4 separate regions of the Homo sapiens genome follow, and all the other regions are linked to region 3. Evidence: fine-mapped expression QTL. A gene starts in region 3. Each other region holds a variant in brackets. All regions are shown on one strand. Distances are from middle to middle.

Region 1 (4,632 bases), 170 kb before region 3:
AAAGTCTGATTAATGTCCTGGATCTTCTCTCCTCCAGAAAATGCAGGTCTTATATTTTGAATAAAAGGTCTATATTTTGTATAGAAGTCCAGGCTTGAAGGACTTCCATAATGTCATGTACTATAGGAATTCCTCCAGGCACAGCACACCCGCAGCCAGGGGACATCCACAAAAATGCTTACCTGTGGTACCAGTAACAAGAACACAAATGGCTTGCCGGGTGCCCACACCGCATGTCTCCTGCCACTTTCTGAAGAATGACACCAAGGCAGCAGATATTACGGCCCCCTTGAGTGTGGAGATACTCAAATGGCCTGTGGTCCATGTTCACTCAATGATCTGCCAAGGCCTGTGGAGCCAGGCCTGTCTGCGGCAGACACTGCAAGGGATACGGGATCAGGTGAACCCTCAAGGCTCTCACGGCTCATGGGGAAAAGCAAACATAAACACAACTAACCCCAAGCTACGGCACAGGACAGCAGGGGTCCCCCAGAGAGACAGATGGATTCTACAGGAGAAGAGAGCAATTCCACTGGGGGGTTCCCAGGGGCAGGATGACAGAAGACTTCCCAGAAGAGACCCTGATGCTTGAATCAGATTCCAAAAAGCATAAAGTTTTGTTGAAAGTAACTGTAGCAGAATTGCCAGGAACTCTACAGGACTTTTTTTTTTTTCTTTTTTTTTTTTTTTTTTGAGACGGAGTCTCGCACTGTTTCCCAGGCTGGAATGAAGTGACACGATCTCGGCTCACTGCAACATCTGCCTCCTGGATTCAAACGATTCTCCCGCCTCAGGCTCCTGAGTAGCTGAGATTACAGGTGCCCGCCACCAAGCCTGGCTAGTTTTTTTGTTTGTTTGTTTGTTTGTTTGTTTGTTTTTTAATGGAGATGAGGTTTCACCACATTGGCCAAGATGGTCTCAAACTCCTGACCTCAGGTGATCCGCCCACCTCAGCCTCCCAAAGTGCAGGGATTACAAGTGTGAGCTACCGTGCCTGGCTCTCTATAGGACTTTTGAAGAGACAGGGTGCACTAACCACATTTTCTAGTTTCCGCATTCGATGCTTTGACATCTCGGGGCCTTGCTGATACTGGAGGGCTGCCTCTCCCAGAGCTAGCAAATTCCTGGAGAGAGCGAACCAACCAATCCAGAGTCCACTCCTTTACCACTTACCCCTATCATCTTCTTACACTTCACTCTGGACCTCTCTCTACCTGGCCGACTCACCCCAGGGCCAGGGACCAGACAACTAGGGACAGTCCCTGTGCCACAGAGCTGCTGTAACTATTCAAACTAGCCAGCTCTGGGCCTGAGCTGTCCCAGGGAAACCACTGTAAAGGCTCCTGGCCACGTTTTTCCCTCCCTTCTTCTGCCTTGCGACCACCCCTGGTGCTTCCCTTCTGTGGCCCTGCACGCTGGGCCTCCCTTCTCCTTCCTTCGTGACAGTCATTTCTGTGTCTGGGTCTCATACCATCTCTGACTAAAACCAATCCCAGGTACCCTTAAAACATGGGTCTGCTTCCCTGAGGGAAGGAAGCCTGGTTGGGCTCTATCTGTAGATACCAATCAATGGAAGAAAGATGTCGATTTCTCCATGGGACCAACTCATGAGTAGAGAGGAAACTGTAAGGAAGACAGGCCTAGCCCTGCCTACATTTCAGCATGGTGCAGGAAGAGAGTCCAGGGGATCTGCCAAAGACCTCTTCTAGCTGGGGAACTGCACCAAGCTTAGGGAGATTCCTAACAGAGAGCTCTAAAAGAGAAATCCCACTGGGTCCATTTAAAGGCAACCACGAAAGGCCAAAGTGTTCTGCTTGGGCATCTTCCTAGGAGGAAATGCCATCAAACAGTGAGGGTGAGGACTGGCCCCTCAGTGCCTATGGCGATCTCTGGCATCAGGGACGGCCTTGCTGTTAACCAAATGTGTGCAGTTGAATCCCAAGACACAGGGCCGGGGGAGGCCGCAGAGTTAATAAGCAAAGAGACCCAATCTCTGGGGCCTGTGAAGAGGAGAGGGTTTTACCACTTCACCTGGCTGGAGGCTCAGGTATGTTGTTTCCACAAATCCCTGCAGGCCCCAGCGAGAAAGCCATGGGCAAGATGGGCACAGGAAGGTGGTGGGGACAATGGGTTTGTGCAGGGGGCAGCCAAAAGGATTCCATGCCCAGCACCAGGCCTGACCCCCAGGGGCCACAGGGAGGGGAAGAAAAGGCCCTGTCTCCCCTGCCTTGCACCATGGTCCAGCTGGACTCGAAGGACAATCCCATGAAGTCAGCAGATGGAACAGAGAGCTGCAGGGCAAAGGCTGGAACACTAGGCCAGTCA[C/T]GTTTCTCTAGAGTCAAAGCCACAGCGCTGCTTTTTCCCGCTCCAGCCCCATAGCCAGGAAAAATCGGCCCCTTTGTGCTCTCCAGCTAGAGGTCACTGGGGCATCTCCTCCAAGGCTCTATGTTTGGGGCTTGGACCCAGGGCTTCCTGTTGCCTGGGAGCCATCTGGCTCAACAGATCCCATTGTTTGGGATGGGGACAGGGCTGGAGGCCCTGGGGAAGCACCCAAGGTCTCAAACATTTAAACCGCTACATCCTGCAGCAGTGGCTGTGGCCTCACTCGAGGAGCATTCTTGGGCTCCCTCTGGGGTATCCGCGCAGCAGGCTTTCTTCCATCAGCAGCCAGGGGACACCCATAAAATATGCTCACTGTGCCAGGAATGAGAATAAAAGTGCCTCACTGGATCCCCAAACTTCACACCTCCTATTGTGTTCTCAGTTTAGATTTGCAATAGCCCTGGGAGGCAAGTGTCCAGCACTGCAGGGCTGTGCCATGCTGGGCACCAGGTCTAGCACTCTATGGCCTTGCTTCTTTTGTCTGATCCAGTGCTATCACAAAATTCTTCCCTGCATTCACCCCTACCCTGACCCTCACCATCTACCCCTGCCTCCAACCTCTGTCACAAAGCTTTTCCCTGTACTAGCCTCAAAGCCCAAACTGGACAATGTCTTTGCTATGTCTTTTGGCCTCTGCCCAGTAGGGTGGCCATATGTCCCATATACATAGAACAATCATTCTCTCCATCCCTTGTCCCAGTTTTAATATTAATAGCATTCCCTTTCACCTGCAGCAGCATCTTCTTTTGGAAGATAAATTATTTGACTGGCTTCCCTCATGGGTTACATTCAGAAGTTCCCACCTGCCCTCTACCTATAGAGGTCCTGAAACCTCAGCCCAAAGTGGCACCTCTTCCTGGGCTGGGTGTGGCACTTTCACCGTGCCCAGCCTCACTGGGGAACAGGAACCAGAGGGAAGGCATTATTCCAGTGAACAAATGAGAACACTGAGGTCAGAGAGAATGCAATCTGCCCAAATCACTGAATTTGTTCATAGCAGGACTCAAGACTATATAAGGATTCTATGCTGGATATACTTTCACCAAACCAGGCCATCGTCATGACCGTGCTTCCCACCATATCACAATTGCAGGCTTGGATGCCCTCTTGGGACTTGCCTTGTTGTCTGCCATTGCTCTTGAGTTGTTTCATGTATAATGGATTCTCTTGTCCCAGGTGATAAAGTCACAGAGCCCAAGAGCTGTGTCTTCTCCTTTTCTCAGCCTAGGTACAGAGGATCTGCTCAAGAAATATTTGCAGAATCCATTTGAATGTTGCTGAGTCCTGCAGGTTTAGGAAACTCTCCAGAAGTGTGGCAAGACTTCTTCAACACTGATGTGATATTGAGTGGTGAGAAGGATGCTCTCTCTAAACTGCTTTTCAGCTCTTCTGCCATGACCTGTCCAGGCTGTCTGCACCAAGGCCACATATGGAGAAGACCCACCCCCACCAAAAAGACCAAGAACCCACCATGGAGGGAAGAGCTTCATGGACAGTAGCATGGCCAGTTGCATGGAGAAAGGTCCTAGGCCTGCATTCTAGATTTATGTCAACATCCCAAATCTATGCCAAGACTGGACAACTGGTGTCAACTTTTGAGACAGACCACTGGGATCATGCCCCCTCTCTCTCCACCCACCATAGTTTATACAAAAATAACTGATGCAGTGAAACAACATGTAGACCTCCCAGCTTTCTCTACTTAATCCCCACTGGGTATGAGGCCTTGGGAAACGCTTCCCTCCTCTGATCCTTAGGTTCCTCATCTGTAAATGAGAGCACTGGACTAGATCAGTGCTGCCCAGTGGAAATGTCATGTGAGCCATGGATAAAATTTTAAACTTTCTAGTAGCCACATTAAAAAGCGGGGGGGAAGGTGTGGAATTAATCTTAATAATGTATATCATGAACATCATATATACCAGGAGTCCCCAACCCCCAGGCCACAGACTGGTACCTGTCCAGGGCCTATTAGGAACCAGGCTGCACAGCAGGAGGTGGGCAGCAGGTGAGTGAGTGAAGCTTCATCTGTATTTACACCCGCGCCCCATCACCTGCATTACCACTTGAGCTCGCCCCCTGTTAGATCATCAGCAGCATTAGACTCTCATAGGAGCGTGAACTCTATTGTGAACTGCGCGTGTGAGGGATCCAGGTTGCATACTCCTTATGAGAATCTAATGCCTGATGTCACTGTCTCCCATCACCCACAGATGGTACTGTCTAGTTGCAGGAAAACAAGCTCAGGGC
Region 2 (4,632 bases), 110 kb after region 3:
ACACGACTTCCACTCTCATCCCAGGATCTTATTTTAAGCCATGTGACAATCCCATAAGGTCTACCCCATGTTTCTAAACCTATGTGACAGATGAGAGACCCCAGCTCAGAGCAGTGAGGTGACTTGCCTAACGTAGCACAGCTGTCAGGGAAGAGTCCCTGGAGTTAGTTCTCTTGCCACTGTCCCTTGGAAGTCTTCATGTCACAAACGAAGGAATCTCCCCTCGGGACCGTAACAAGCAGCATGGCCAGCAGGCAGCCTGGCATGCTGGGAAGGGCTTGGCCAAGTCCCAGCTCAGCCACTTAGGAGCCCCGGCAGCCTGGAGCCAGTCATCCAGTTTCTGCGAGCTCAGTTTCCTCATCTGCAGAACACAAAGAACATCCATGCCTTTCCAGAAAGGAACAAAGGAAAACATGGAGTGTTCTGGATCCTAAGAAGTCCAGTGCCCCAGGAGGGGTCAAGACCACTGCACCCCCAGGAGATCCCCATACCCAGTATTTGGGACAATGTGACATGCTGTAACAAGGCAGTCTCTGCGGCTAACTGTGGTTTCCGTAAACAGAAGCTGCTTTCTCACTTCCTCCTGTAACGGAGACCCCTATGTCCATGACTCCCTGTGTAAAAGGAACAAAGAGAGGATGGGTGCGGTGGCTCACGCCTGTAATCCAGCACTTTGGGAGGCCGAGGTGGGCGGATCACTTGAGGTCAGCAGTTTGAGACCAGCCTGGCCAATGTGGTGAAACCCGTCTCTACTAAAAATACAAAAATTATGTGGGCATGGTGGCATACACCTGTAATCAAAGGATCTCGGGAGGCTGAGGCAGAAGAATCACGTAAAGCCAGGATGCAGAGGTTGCAGTGAGCCAAGATCGTGCCACTGCACTCCAATCTGGAAGACAGAGCAAGACTCCATCTCAAAAAAAAAAAAAAAGTAACAAAGAGGACCAGGCCAAATGGCTGAGAGGAGAGACAAGGAAGAAAGCTACATGAAGCGGGCAGGGCTCAGTTCAGGGATGATTCATGCTTGGAGACAGACGTTTCTGGTAGCTGAAGGAGGTGAGCCTGGCTGGGACCCAGCCCAGGTGAGACACAGCCAAGTGAGGACGGGAGGGAGAAGAGGCAGCTGAACTGGGAGATGGCTCTAAGACCAGCTTCCCAGGAAGAGTGAAGCTGGATTTTACAGCCACTTGCAGGCGCCTGCTAATGAAGGAAACTAGTCCATGAAAAATGCCTCCCAGGTATTTGTGGCTGTCCCCAGGGGCTGGCTCTGTGTCTTCTGGCACTGGTGCCATGTCCACTGAGACCACTGCTTCTACACTTCACTGGGTGTTCAGTGGGCGCCACCAACTCCCAAACTCCTGAGGCTGACAGTGCTTGGCACCCTGTAGCAAAGTGATGAAACTGTCCCATTCCCTGCTCTGTTTCAACCTCAACTAGATGAATGCCCAAATGTGCAGTGTGTGCCCAAAGGCCTTAAGAACTCTAAGTGAAAGAGGCGTGTTGAGAGATAAGTCCTAGAGATAGATGCCCAGAGGTAACTCCACTGTGCTCTAATGGTGCCACCTGGACTCGTGCAGTGCACAGCCTGTGCAGCTGTCCATGGTGTCCCAGTAGACACTATACCATCCTCAAAGCACCTCATCTACCTGACAGCTTGCTCTTTTGCCTTGGTCAAGTTTCTCATGCTTGCCTAAGCCCTCATTATAAATGGTGTCTCCTAAATTTACTCATTGCTCAAGCTGCATAAGCTTGCACAGAAAACCTGCAGTGCTATCTCCTTGCTTTAGGGTAAGTTCTGTCCCAGGGAGCTCCACTGCCCCTCATGCTACTGGACCCACCCTACCATTGCTCTGGACATAGCCGAATCCCAGAAGAGAGCCCCACAAGGTTTCAGTTAAGCCTTTGAACCTATATTTTCCTCATTCCCTCTTGGCAAAGTCATTCCTGCTGACTTGCTATCCTGACAATTTCCCCCAAACAAAAGACTATATAGCATTAATGGGAATTTTGAAGGTCTCCTGATCCAGGCCTATCATTCTGCAGATGGGAGAATAAGGCCCAGAGACGGAAGAGACTTGCTGGACGGCCCATGGCCAGTTAGTGGCAGACCTGGGATTAGAGCTCCTAATTTAGTTCCCTGTCTAGTGTCCATTGTCACGGACCTGCAGAGGTTATGGGTTGATGAACAAGCCACAATGTCCAAGCACATTGCCCTCTGCCCTACTGCTGGCCTCACCTGCCTTCCCCATCAAAGAAGTCAAAGACCAGCCTGGCCAACATGGTGAAACCCCATCTCTACTAAAAA[T/C]ACAAAAATTAGCCAGGCGTAGTGGCAGGCACCTGTAATCCCAGCTACTTGGGAGGCTGAGGCAGAAGAATCTGGGATTGAACCTGGGAAGTGGAGGTTGCAGTGAGGTGAGTGAGATCGCACCACTGCACTCCAGCCTTGGGTGACAGAGCAAGACTCCATCTAACAAAAAAAAAAATGTCAAAGGTGACTTTCTTTTTAGGAGGCAGCTCTATTTTGTCTGCTGGGGAACAGGGCCCTGTGCTGGGCCAGCCAAGCCAGAAGTCAGGACCAAGAGAAGAGAGATTGGCTGTCTGGAGGGTCTGATAATAACTGAAGATCCGAATGCGCTGCAGAGAGCTGGCCCCGTCTCTGCTATAGGTTCAGGCTGGGTTTGCCGAGTGTGGCTGGTCAATTCGGCCCAAGTGGCCCTGAGGGCCCCAGACCCTGAATGTCTGGCTCTGGACACCAGTCCTTACTTCCCGCAAGGCTCATCTCCAGCCTGCCAGGCCTGCCCACAAAAGCCTACTGAGTGCTCTGTGTCCAGTCCACCCTGGCTGGCCATGCTTCTGTGAGTCCTCAACCCCTCCTCCATCCCCACCTCCTACCCCAGAGCTAGCCAAGTTCCCATTCTCTTTCAGCCAACAGTCTTTGAGAAAACCAAATTTTTTCTCATTGCTTCTTAGCCATAATCCCCAGGTTCAGACAAACCGATTTTTTTTTTTTTTGAGACGGAGTTTTGCTCTTGTCACCCAGGCTGAAGTGCAATGGTGGGATCTCAGCTCACTGCAACCTCCACTCCCCAGGCTCAAGCGATTCTCCAGCCTCAGCCTCCAGAGTAGCTGGTATCACAGGCATGCGCCACCACGCCTGGCTAATTTGTATTTTTAGTAGAGATGGGGTTTCACCATCTTGGCCAGGCTGGTCTTGAACTCCCTGACCTTAGGTGATCTGGCCACCTTGGCCTCCGAAAGTGCTGGGATTACAGGCATGAGCCATTGCACCCAGCCAGACAAATCAGTCTTGCAGGCAGTTTGGCAGGGCTGGAACCTGGCTTAAGTAACTACTCCAGCAACCTCTTGAGGCTTCTCCTTGCCCTGTGACCCAGCAGGATCATCTTGTCCCAGCTGCCCTCCCTCGAGCCATTTCTAGATGACCCTTCATCACCATGGAACCTCTGGTTCCTTTCCTAGACGCCATCTCTGGTTGTTCTTTTGTGTGTCCACTCCTTCCCCTTCAACCAGACCCATCCCAGTTCACTTCTTCATCCCATCAGCCCTGAGCCTGTATGGCCTTGTGCATACTCATGGGCCAAATGGTTCTTATTTGTAGGTGGAAGCAGGAATTGGAGCCCAGAGTTGGCCACTGCACCTTACTCTGAAGTTGCCTGCTAGGGAAAGCTACCCCTCAGGGATCAACGTCAATGGTAACATAGGGGGAGTAGTCATCAGAGGAGGATGGAAAGAGAATAAGTCCGCAGAGCTTTCCTTCCACCATGGGCAGCAAGGTAACCAGCAGGAAAAGAGCAGCTCAGCCTCAGCTGCCTGTAATTAACTCACTCCCCAATGAATTTGCTCAGAGCCATGCAGTGATGATCTTAGGGAGGGGAAGAAACCCTTACTCAGTGATAGTAGCCCTTGCAGGAAGGTAGAACAGGGAATCAGAAATCTCCTTCCCTTTTGCTCTCCCTCACTTGCATAAAAGATCAAAAACTATCTCCCACTGGCTGAGCATGGTGGCTCACACCTGTAATCCCTGCACTTTGGGAGGCCGAGGTGGGTGGATCACCTGAGGTCAGGGGTTCGAGACCAGCCTGGCCAACGTGGCAAAACCCCCTCTCTACTAAAAACACAAAAATTAGCTGGGTGTGGTGGTGCATGCCTGTAATCCCAGCTACCTGGGGGTGCTAAGGCAGGAGAATTGCTTGAACTGGGAGGCGGAGATTACAGTGAGCCGAGATTGTACCACCTCATTCCATTCTGGGCAACAGAGTGAGACTGCCTCAAAAAAAAAAAAAGGAAAAAGGAAAAAAAAAAAAAATCTCCCTGTGGATGCAGGAAGCCTTGACTTTGGTGATTGAGTCCTTTCCCTGAAGCACAACCATAAACAAATTCTCATAAAATGTAAAACACCTGAGAGGGATTTAAAAATCAACTTGGCCTCAGTTTCCATAAGTACAAAAATAAGGCCTCAGGCTGAAGTGCTATTAGGACCTTTCTGGATCAGACATCATGCTCCTTGAAATCTCCATGATGAGGAGTTTCTCAGCCCCTGGGGCTTCCAGAAGGCCCCAGCCACTGCAGGATGGGGGCCGAGGTGAGGACATAGGAACAGGGAGAGAGGTGGGA
Region 3 (4,514 bases):
GTAGTTACCCGGCTCCCTCTATGGGAGCGTCTACTCCCTGGCAGCAGCCCTGCCTGGGACTCCCGGTGGTGCACAGCCTTGCAAACAACCGCCTTTCCTCACCTCCCTCCGGAGATTGCCATTTCCCAAGCAGCTGCGATTTCACCTAGCTTTAAAGGGAGAGAGGAGCTGGGAATTCTGTGTGGAAAAGAAACTGCGTGGGGCTCAGTGGCGCCAGGCAGCCTCTCCTCCCTGTCTTGGAGGCGGCGGGGGGGGCAGTGGGGGGGGTTTGCAGAAGGAGCAGTGGTCTTTGTTCAGACCCGTTTTTCCTCCCTCGCCTCCCACCCTCTTCAACGGAGAAAGCAAACTTTGGCCTCCCTCCCGCCTCTTCCCACCAGCCACGGGGGTCCGCGGCCCCCAGAGGTGGAGGAGGGAAGGCCGGGAACGGCTGCTCACAACCCTCCGCTCCCGCCCACCCATCTGGCTCGGGGCTCGGTGGGGAGAAACTTGAAAAGTGTTCCGGGGAGTGGAGCCGCCGGTTAGGGGCTCAGGGCGTGGGGACGCGGGCTCCGTTTGCCAGGCGCGGCTGGCAGGTGGGGAGTGACTGCCAGCGCTCCCCGCGCGATGTCCAAGCGGGAGCCGCCGGAGAAACCCGCGCCCTCCACCACGACCGACTCGGGGAGCAGACCAGGAAAGGCGGACCCCGCAGGACTGTTCTCTCCCCGCCTAGGAGCCTCTCTCTCCCTCCCTTCTTGCAGATCAAGAGTTGGATATTTTTTTTTCTTAAGTTGCCGCAATTCGAACCCATTATTTCGGGGGAGATGCGCGCTATACTGGCGTGTGAGCGAGCGCGGGTGTGTGTGTGCGTGCACAGTGTCTGCGGGGCTGGTTCGGATGTTGAGTCTCCCTCCCGATCCCCCTGCGTCGCCAGCCAGCCGCGGCTCCGGTCCCTCGTCCGCGTCCCTGCCGCCCGGCCCCGCTCGGTTCGCCAGCACCGGGCCCGGCTAGCTCCGCGGCGCGCTCTCCCCGCCGACCTCCCGCCAGCCCCCCACCGGCGCTCCGCTCGCCCCCCGCCTCCCCGGCTTCTCGCCTCCCCCTCGAGCTCGCCGCCCGCAGGTACTCACCTAGAAAGAAGAAGAGGCAGAAGACGTTTGCCAAGATCATGTTAAATAAATCCCACCGTTTTTTTGTCTTTCTCCCTTGGGTAAAAAAAAATAATAGTAGTAACAACAACAATAATAATAGGCAAGCAGTGGTAATCAGCCCCAAATCCAATGCGGAGATCCCAGCTAGTCCACCCGATGAAGATCCCGAGTCCTGCGATTCTCGCCTCTGGCTGGAGGGGGTGGGGTGAGAGGCGGGCGATGGGCTGCTGCCTCTCGACGCCCCCCTTGCCCGCTACAATCAAATATACGCGTATCTGTGTATCGGCTTTCTAAGCCAACAGCCCAGTCCTGGGGTCAGCCCTCCCCTCCAATCGTCCGGGAAGGCGTGAGTCCCCGCGGGTCCAATTCCCCTGCGCTTCCCAGGAGGGGCCTGGGGAGGTGGGGAGAGAGGCGATTTGCGAGTGAAGGGCTGGAAGGAAGCGGCGAGGGAGGGGGTCGGAATAAAATGCAAATAGAAAAGAAATCCACAGACGGGTGTCAGCGCCCAAGAACAATCCAGTCGGAGCTTCGAGGACGAGAGACTGGAGTCGCTTCTTTCGCACCAAGACGAAGACAAGATTCAAAAAAATCTTCTCCCGCTAACCCTTGCTCGGCTCACTTTTTTCTAATGGAATTCCAGTGACCGTGTGTCTCTGCGTGCGTGTGTCTTTCTCTCTCCTCTCTCTCTCTCTCCTCTCCCTCGCTCGCTCTTTGCTCTCGCTCTCTCCAGCTCTCCCTCGCTCTCCTCTCTCCCTCCCCCTTCTCCCACTCTCCCTGCTCCTCCCTCCGCCCGCCCCCTTCTCCCTTCGCGGCTCCCTCGCCCGGGCTCTCGCGCCAGCGCCCCTCTCCTCCGCCCCGGGCTCGGCGCTCGGGCTCCCAGGCGGCTGGCGGCGCGGGGCGCGGGGCGCGGGAGCGCGGCGGAGCTACGATGCTCTGCAGCGGCGGCGGCGACAAGGCGAAGGCGGTGGCGGTGGCGGTGGCGGCGGCGGCGGCGCCGGGGATCGCGGGCCGAGAGGAGAGCCCAGCCGCCGGCTCCCTCGGCTCAATCGCCCGCCCTTCCTGGGACTGACCTGCTGCCTTGGCCGGAAACTGACTGGCTCCCCCGGCTACGGCTCGGGCTCGAACCCACTCAAGCGTCGGCACCCTCCTCCTCCTCCCCCCGCAGCTCTCCCCACCCTGGGGACCGGCTGCGCCCTCCAACCCCCACTGCCCCTGCCCCCGCCCCCTGCGCCGCTGGGTCTGGGAAGCCTGGGGAGCTGAGCTGAGGCTGGAGGGCGCGGAGTCCGTGGGGCCCGAGCCATCCGGGGGCTCGGGGGGCAGGGCGTTAGAAAAACCCCAGCCGGTGGCCCGGGTCTGAGGGGGGCTCCACCCTCCGTGGGCTAAGGCGTCCCTGCGCCCAGGAGCCGAGGCCGACAAAGCGTCTCCCCGATGGTGCCAGGGAAAGGAATTATCCCCTTCGGCGCCGGCCCCGCGCGCCCCCGAACCCAACGCATCCTGCCGGCCCCGGCCTAGCCCCGCGCGCACATACACGTGTGCTCTCCGCGCGGACCTCGGGAACTTTGCCCTCACGCCCGCGGCGCGCTTGCCTCCCGCCCGCCCCGGCCTCCACCCCTTCGAGATGCCCCTTCCCCAGCCGGTCTCCCCTCCCCCCGGCTCGGGAAGAAGCCTGCTGGGCCAGGGCGCCCTGACCACCTCCTCGGAGGCCGGCAAACCTGCCTGAACCGCCCCAGAGGAATCGGGCAGGGGCTCGCACCCCACCCCGGCAGGAGGGCCCCGAGACCGACCCGGGCCGGGGCTCCGCAGCCGGCTGGGCTCCGAGGAGCTCGTCCCGAGGCAGCTCCCGGCTCCCTAGGCTCCGGGGTTGGGGGGTTCCTCCTCCCCTAGCCGGGAAGGGGGCGATTGATCCATCTGTCGGTGGGCCGGGCTCACCGGCGTGTTTTAGTCGCAGAATTTACAATAAACGCCCAGAAGGACCTAAAAGGAAGCGTCTGGCTGGGAAAGGGCTGGAGGAGAGGTGCGGCTGCGGTCACGTTCCGGCGAGAGCGGGAGAGGCGCGGGGTCGCGGTCGCGCGAGGGCTCACACCCACGCAGCCCGGCATCCCCCGGCCCTCGCGCCACGTTCCTCGCACTCAGCTCGGCGCGCACACACGGTGTCCTGGGGTGGGGTACACGCAGCGCCTCAGAAACTTTTCGTGCTGCCCAAAACAATCTGGGCTGCACGTAACATGAATTTGATAGTACCGTTTAAGATGCATTCTTAAATAACAAGACTCTGGAATCCAGTAAATGCTAGAAATCGACTTGGACGAGAAGGGAGGGGTCACTAACAAAACCAGCAGCCTTAGCTATTGGGAAAGCTAGAGGGAGCAACTTCCATCTTGAGGATTTAGGCGGGAAGGCGGCTGCTCCCGGCCTTGGAAGCACAGAGAGCGAGTCTCCTGTGAACGCCTCTTTCCTGTGGTCCGTCCTGGGGCATCGACCTTCCTCCCTCCATCTTCTCCCCCAGCCATCCAGTTGTGCCTGCTTCGAGCCTAGGCCCTAGCTGGGTAGTGACGAGTCTGGGACAGAGGGCTTAGGGATTGGAGTTGGGGAAAGCCCCCTTCAGGCCTGCCCTCCCTGTCATTCCTCCAAGCCTCTCATGTTCTAGGAAGTGACTTCGCATCTGACAAGGTCTCTTGGCTTTTTTTCCAAAAATTGGGGAGCATAAGGAACCGGCTTTGGATAAGTGTAGGTTAAAAGATAAAACTTGACAGGAATTACACTGCCAGGCAGGCTTGGCCTGGAGGCCCGAGGCTGGGAGCCTGGCCTAAATGAATGTCCCCCCTCTCATCTCCTCGACTTCCAGGGTCTTCTGGTTGTCCAAATACTCCCCACCACCACCCATTTCGGAATCTCACGCAGGCCTTCCCCCTTCCAAGGACCCTGCTCCAAACTCCAGAATTTCTGCTCAGCATATCCCTCTCCCCTTCCCCACAAAAAAGAATTTCACTTTCTTTTAACTTCATTTGAGCATAATGAGAGAAATTCTCTGAATCATATATGTAGTTCTCCCCTCCCACCTATCCAGAAAATGGGGCTGAGAAAGCAGCAATGAAGCCCTGGGGATGGTTCTCACTGAGCTCCCACGGGAGTAGGAAAGAGGATTCCGGTAGCAGGAGGTAAGTGGCCCTTCTGCGACCCAAGACCACCCAGCCATCCCAAGAACAGTAGAGAACACCAATCAGTCACCACCAGCATTCAGCTTGTGTGACTGCAGGGCACTCTGACCTTGGACCCTCTCTTACCTACTGCCTATACAGACGTATCCCATGACACCCCACCCTCTGCCCACCCCAACACTCAACCCAAACTGCTCTTAAAAATGGCATCATCCCTTATTTCCTGAGCATC
Region 4 (4,632 bases), 50 kb after region 3:
TCCTCTCTGCCGAATTTCGAGACCCAGACTCTTCTGTGAGCCATGCAAGGCCCCCACTTTCCTTAGCCAGCCGCATTTCTCATATTCCCCACAGCATATCCCCCACCCTGCCGGCAGCCCTCTCACTTTACCCCCATCAATGTCCTTCTTTCTTTTGTAACTTTTTTTTATTTTACTTTAAGTTCCGGGATACATGTGCAGAACGTGCAGGTTTGTTACATAGCTGTAAATGTGCCATGGTGGTTTGCTGCACCTATCAACCCATCATCTAGGTTTTAAGCCCCGCATGCATTAGGTATTTGTTCTAATGTTCTCCCTCCCCTTGCCCCCACCCCCCGAACAGGCCCCACTGTGTAATGTTCCCCTCCCTGTGTCCATGTGTTCTCCACTGTTCAACTCCTACTTATGAGTGAGAACGTGCAGTGTTTGATTTTCTGTTCCTGTGTTAGTTTGCTGAGAATGATGGTTTCCAGCTTCATCTATGTTCCTGCAAAGGACATGATCTCATTCTTTCTTATGGCTGCATAGTATTCCATGGTGCATATGTGCCACATTTTCTTTATCCAGTCTATCATTGATGGACATTTGGGTTGGTTCCAAGTCTTTGCTATTGTAAACAGTGCTGCAATACACACGTGTGCATGTGTCTTTCTAGTAGAATGATTTATAATCCTTTGGGTATATACCCAGTAATGGGATTGCTGTGTCAAATGCTATTTCTAGTTCTAGATCCTTGAGGAATCGCCACACTGTCTTCCACAATGGTTGAACTAATTTACACTCCCACCAACAGTGTAAAAGCATTACTGTTTCTCCATAGACTTGTCAGCATCTGTTGTTTTCTGAAATGTCCTTTTTTTTTTTTTTTTTTTTTTTTGAGGCAGAGTCTCGCTATGTCGCCAGGCTGGAGTGCAGTGGCAAGATCTCAGCTCACTGCAACCTCTGCCTCCCAGGTTCAAGCGATTCTCCCACCTCAGCCTCCCGAGTAGCTGAGATTACAGGCACACACCACCACGCCCAGCTAATTTTTGTATTTTCAGTAGAGACGGGGTTTCACCATGTTGGCCAGGATGGTCTCGATTTCCTGACCTCGTGATCCTCCTGCCTCAGCCTCCCAAAGTGCTGGCATTACAGGCGTGAGCCACCACACCCAGCTGAAATGTCCTTATTTCTAAACTCGCTCCAGCTGTCCCCACCTGAGGTCCTCCCTCCTTCCCTCTGCCCACCCTATCCTGCCTCAGAGCCTGCCCTAAACACAGCAGCTCCTACAGGACGCCGGGAAAGAAATGATTTCACTCCAAGGCGCTGAGCACAGGCTGTGTCACTTAACAGCGGCTTGAGTTCAGACAAGCCTCTCAATGACTCTGGGCCTGTTTCTACCCCCAGACCCTTCAAACATGGAGACAATACCTTTCTCCCAGATTGGTGAGGATTAAATGATATCAGGCACATGAAAGAATCTGCCACCCAGTAAACTCCCAATAAATGTGTGTCCTCCAGATATCTGATCTTCTGTTCCCTGAATCCACTTCTATTTATGGCCGGCACTGGGCGTAATTGTTTCATTCTGTTGGCTTCGTCTCCCCAGACTGAACTTCTTGAGCAATGGAAAGGGTTTGGGGTTTCTCTGGAATCTCCCACAGCACCTGGCACAGCTTTGAGTCAGTAAAGAACTGATGCCTGGAACGAACACCATGGTGATGCCCTTAGGTGTGTATTTCAAATGGGAGAAGCAGGCCCTGTGTCCCTGTGGTCACCTCCCTGGTCTGCTTACCCACGGGCTGGGGCCTTAAGGGAGGGGTAAGGCCGGCCTGGCTCCTGCAGGCCTTGGACACATGGGGAGGGGGCAGTAATGGAATGAGAGGCCCCGAGATCCAATTCCATAATGATTACGGTGAGAGGGACAAACTCCAGAGGCCAATTGTTGGGTGTAATTGGAGTGAACAGCAAATCGCAATTGGCCAAGAGCCCTGAGGTCAGACAGGCTGGGCCCATCCAGGTCCAGGAGGACCCTGTGGTCGGCCAGGCAGAAGAAGATCTCTCTCCATTAGGTCCTGGCAGGGGAGGGTGAGCAGGCTGGTCTGTATCATCTGGGTGGAGCGGCTGAGTGGATGTGACATAATTGAATGAGGCCTCTGCGTCTTCCACCCAGAGCGGGGGAATTAGCAGGCCCGACCCTCGCCTCGGGAGACCGCACTCCCCCTCATCTGCCTGCATTGCTCCACTCCACACCGCCTGCTCAGGGTGGGGTGGGAGTGCCAGGAAACGGCTCAGGCCAGGTCTGTTGTGGGAAAGAGGGGGCACAGGAAGACGGGCACAAGGAGCCGGGCTCAGGCGGGAAAGTCCCGGGGGTCTGTGGGGAGGGGGTGATAGTGATGGGCCGGGGGCGGGGGTCCATAGGACTAGCGTTTGCCAGACAGATGGCAAGGAGAAACCCAGAGCAAGGAGGGAGGATGGGATGGAGGCGGGGAGAGATGGAGCCAGGCACACAGCAGAGATGGGAACAAGATAGACAGGGAGATAACATGACAGCGGCCAGA[C/G]ACACAGGACGAGCTGAGCGATGGCGAAGAAGAGGGGCAGATAAAGAGAGGCTTATTAAGAAAGACTGATCAGCAGCCCGAGGAATAGGCAGACAGGGAGACAGGAGCTTCATGGAACATAGGCCTGAACCCTCCCTGACCGGGGCAGCCACACCTTCTCTGCACTTACGGGGCACTATTCTGAATATGCCACATTGTCTCACTGAATCTGCCCAGCACCCTTACGGAATTGGTAATGATTTCTTACAGATGGAGAAACTGAGGCTGGAGAGGATAAGTCACCTGCCCAGGGCCACCCAGCTAGAAAACAAAGGAGACAGAAGGTGAGCCCCACTGGAGCTGGTTTCCTGGCCCCACCCTTGCCCTGCACCAGCAAAGTCTTTCTTGGTTTAGCTGCAGAGGAATCTCTCAGCCTAGCCGCCTCCCTAGGATGAATGGATACAGAGGACTTCCTGGTGGCTGTGGGAGTTCAAGTGGTCAGAAGACTGTCTTTTTTTTTTCTTTTTGTTTTGTTTGGTTGGTTTTTTGTTTGTTTGTTTTGTTTTGTTTTGTTGAGACAGAGTCTCACTCTGTTGCTCAGGTTGGAATGCAATGGCAAGATCTCGGCTCACTGCAACCTCTGCCTCCAGGGTTCAAGCGATTCTCCTGCCTCAGCCTCCTGAGTAGCTAGGATTACAGGCGTGCACCACCTAATTTTTGTATTTTTACAAAATACAAAAATACAAAAATTAGCGCCCAGCTAATTTTTTTAGTAGAGACAGAGTTTCACCATGTTTGTCAGGCTGGTCTCGAACACCTGACCTTGTGATCCACCTGCCTTGGCCTCCCAAAATGCTGGGATTACAGGCGTGCACCACTTTATTTTTGTATTTTTACAAAATACAAAAATTAGCGCCCAGCTAATTTTTTTAGTAGAGACAGAGTTTCACCATGTTTGTCAGACTGGTCTCGAACACCTGACCTTGTGATCCACCTGCCTTGGCCTCCCAAAATGCTGGGATTACAGGCGTGAGCCACTGCACCTGGTCTTTGTTTGTTTGTTTGTTTGTTTTTAACCTTTTCTGGTCTCAGTTCCCTACCCCTAGGGCCCCTGGCACTGCCCCTTACCACCTGCACTGGCCTCTCCAACACTCAGTCAGCCACTGGGGAATCTAATGCATGCACTAATGTCACTTTAAAGTATGGCCTCTGCCATGGGTAATTACTTTTAATTGGGGTCTCCAGGTGTAATAGGGGAGACATTTGAGGGGGCAGGAAGGCCTTCCCTGTACCTTTCTAATCCAATGTGGGAAGATTCCTCCTGTACTGATTCATCAAGCCAGTCCTGGCTGTGTGACTGGCTTCATCCAAGCAGGGAGAAAAGATGTCTGGGTACCCATCACCTATTGCCTTTGTTTTTTGTTTGTTTGTTTGAGATCATGTCTCACTCTGTCGCCCAGGCTGGAGTGCAGTGGCACAATCTCAGCTCACTGCAACCTCCACCTCCCAGGTTCAAGCAATTCTCCTGCCTCAGCCTCCCAAGTAGATGGGATTACAGGCACCCACCACCACAGCCCGCTAATTTTTTTTTTTTTTGTATTTTTAATAGAGACGGGGTTTCTCCATATTGGCCAGGCTGGTGTCGAACTCCTAACCTCAAGTGATCAGCCTGCCTTGGCCCCCCAAAGTGCTGGGATTACAGACATAAGCCACCGCACCCAGCCACCCATTGCCTTTGTGAACCCTATCCAAACTCCCATGGAATATTCCCAGCCACAGGCACCAACTTGGAAAGTTCTGCCAGCCAGACCAAGCTCTCCCCAGGAACAGGGACCTTGCCTTGGGTGGGGACCACCAAGCAACTGCTCCCATTCCCCAAAGAAGCTCCCCTGTCCTCCCTGGCTGCCAGCTGTCAGGGTTCAGAGGGGCTTCAGGCTGGGACATCACCCATCTAGGTGGCTGCTGTGCACTCTCTGACCCAGCCAGGCCTGCTGCCCTGCCCACTGCCTCCCCAGCACCCTGGGGAGGTGAGAGGAAGTGCCAGCGTCAGCTTATAGACAGCTGTGCCCAGGAGCCCTGAAGGAAGGTGAGAGCTGTTTCACCTTCACGGGCA

Which allele goes with the higher level. Alleles are on the strand shown, and positions count from the first base shown. SD is a standard deviation of normalised expression in the study named. Not every link is listed here.
For the expression in esophagus muscle of the gene that starts at base 1,859 in region 3, C is the low allele of the variant in region 1 and T is the other (moderate effect, 0.72 SD a copy in GTEx).

What was found. PIP is the estimated chance that this variant, and not a neighbour inherited with it, causes the effect. A credible set is the group of variants that fine-mapping cannot tell apart.
Region 1: its variant is the best candidate, but not a certain one, in a credible set for the expression of GFRA2 in esophagus muscle (GTEx, PIP 0.89).
Region 2: its variant is the best candidate, but not a certain one, in a credible set for the expression of GFRA2 in whole blood (TOPMed, PIP 0.71).
Region 4: its variant is the best candidate, but not a certain one, in a credible set for the expression of GFRA2 in whole blood (TOPMed, PIP 0.62).

What each region holds. Positions count from the first base shown.
Region 1 is chr8:21,614,213-21,618,844 of GRCh38, forward strand. No RefSeq gene overlaps it. Among named protein-coding and RNA genes, the nearest start is that of GFRA2, 170 kb to the right of the region's middle. The variant C/T (reference allele first, on the strand shown) is at 2,326.
Region 2 is chr8:21,896,839-21,901,470 of GRCh38, forward strand. No RefSeq gene overlaps it. Among named protein-coding and RNA genes, the nearest start is that of DOK2, 15 kb to the right of the region's middle. RefSeq lists enhancers at 224-373, 464-513 and a silencer at 634-693. The variant T/C (reference allele first, on the strand shown) is at 2,306.
Region 3 is chr8:21,787,017-21,791,530 of GRCh38, forward strand. It overlaps GFRA2 (GDNF family receptor alpha 2), which reads right to left and starts at 1,859. Exons shown (of 9, transcript NM_001495.5): 1 at 1,104-1,859. The coding sequence starts at 1,143.
Region 4 is chr8:21,836,603-21,841,234 of GRCh38, forward strand. No RefSeq gene overlaps it. Among named protein-coding and RNA genes, the nearest start is that of GFRA2, 50 kb to the left of the region's middle. The variant C/G (reference allele first, on the strand shown) is at 2,541.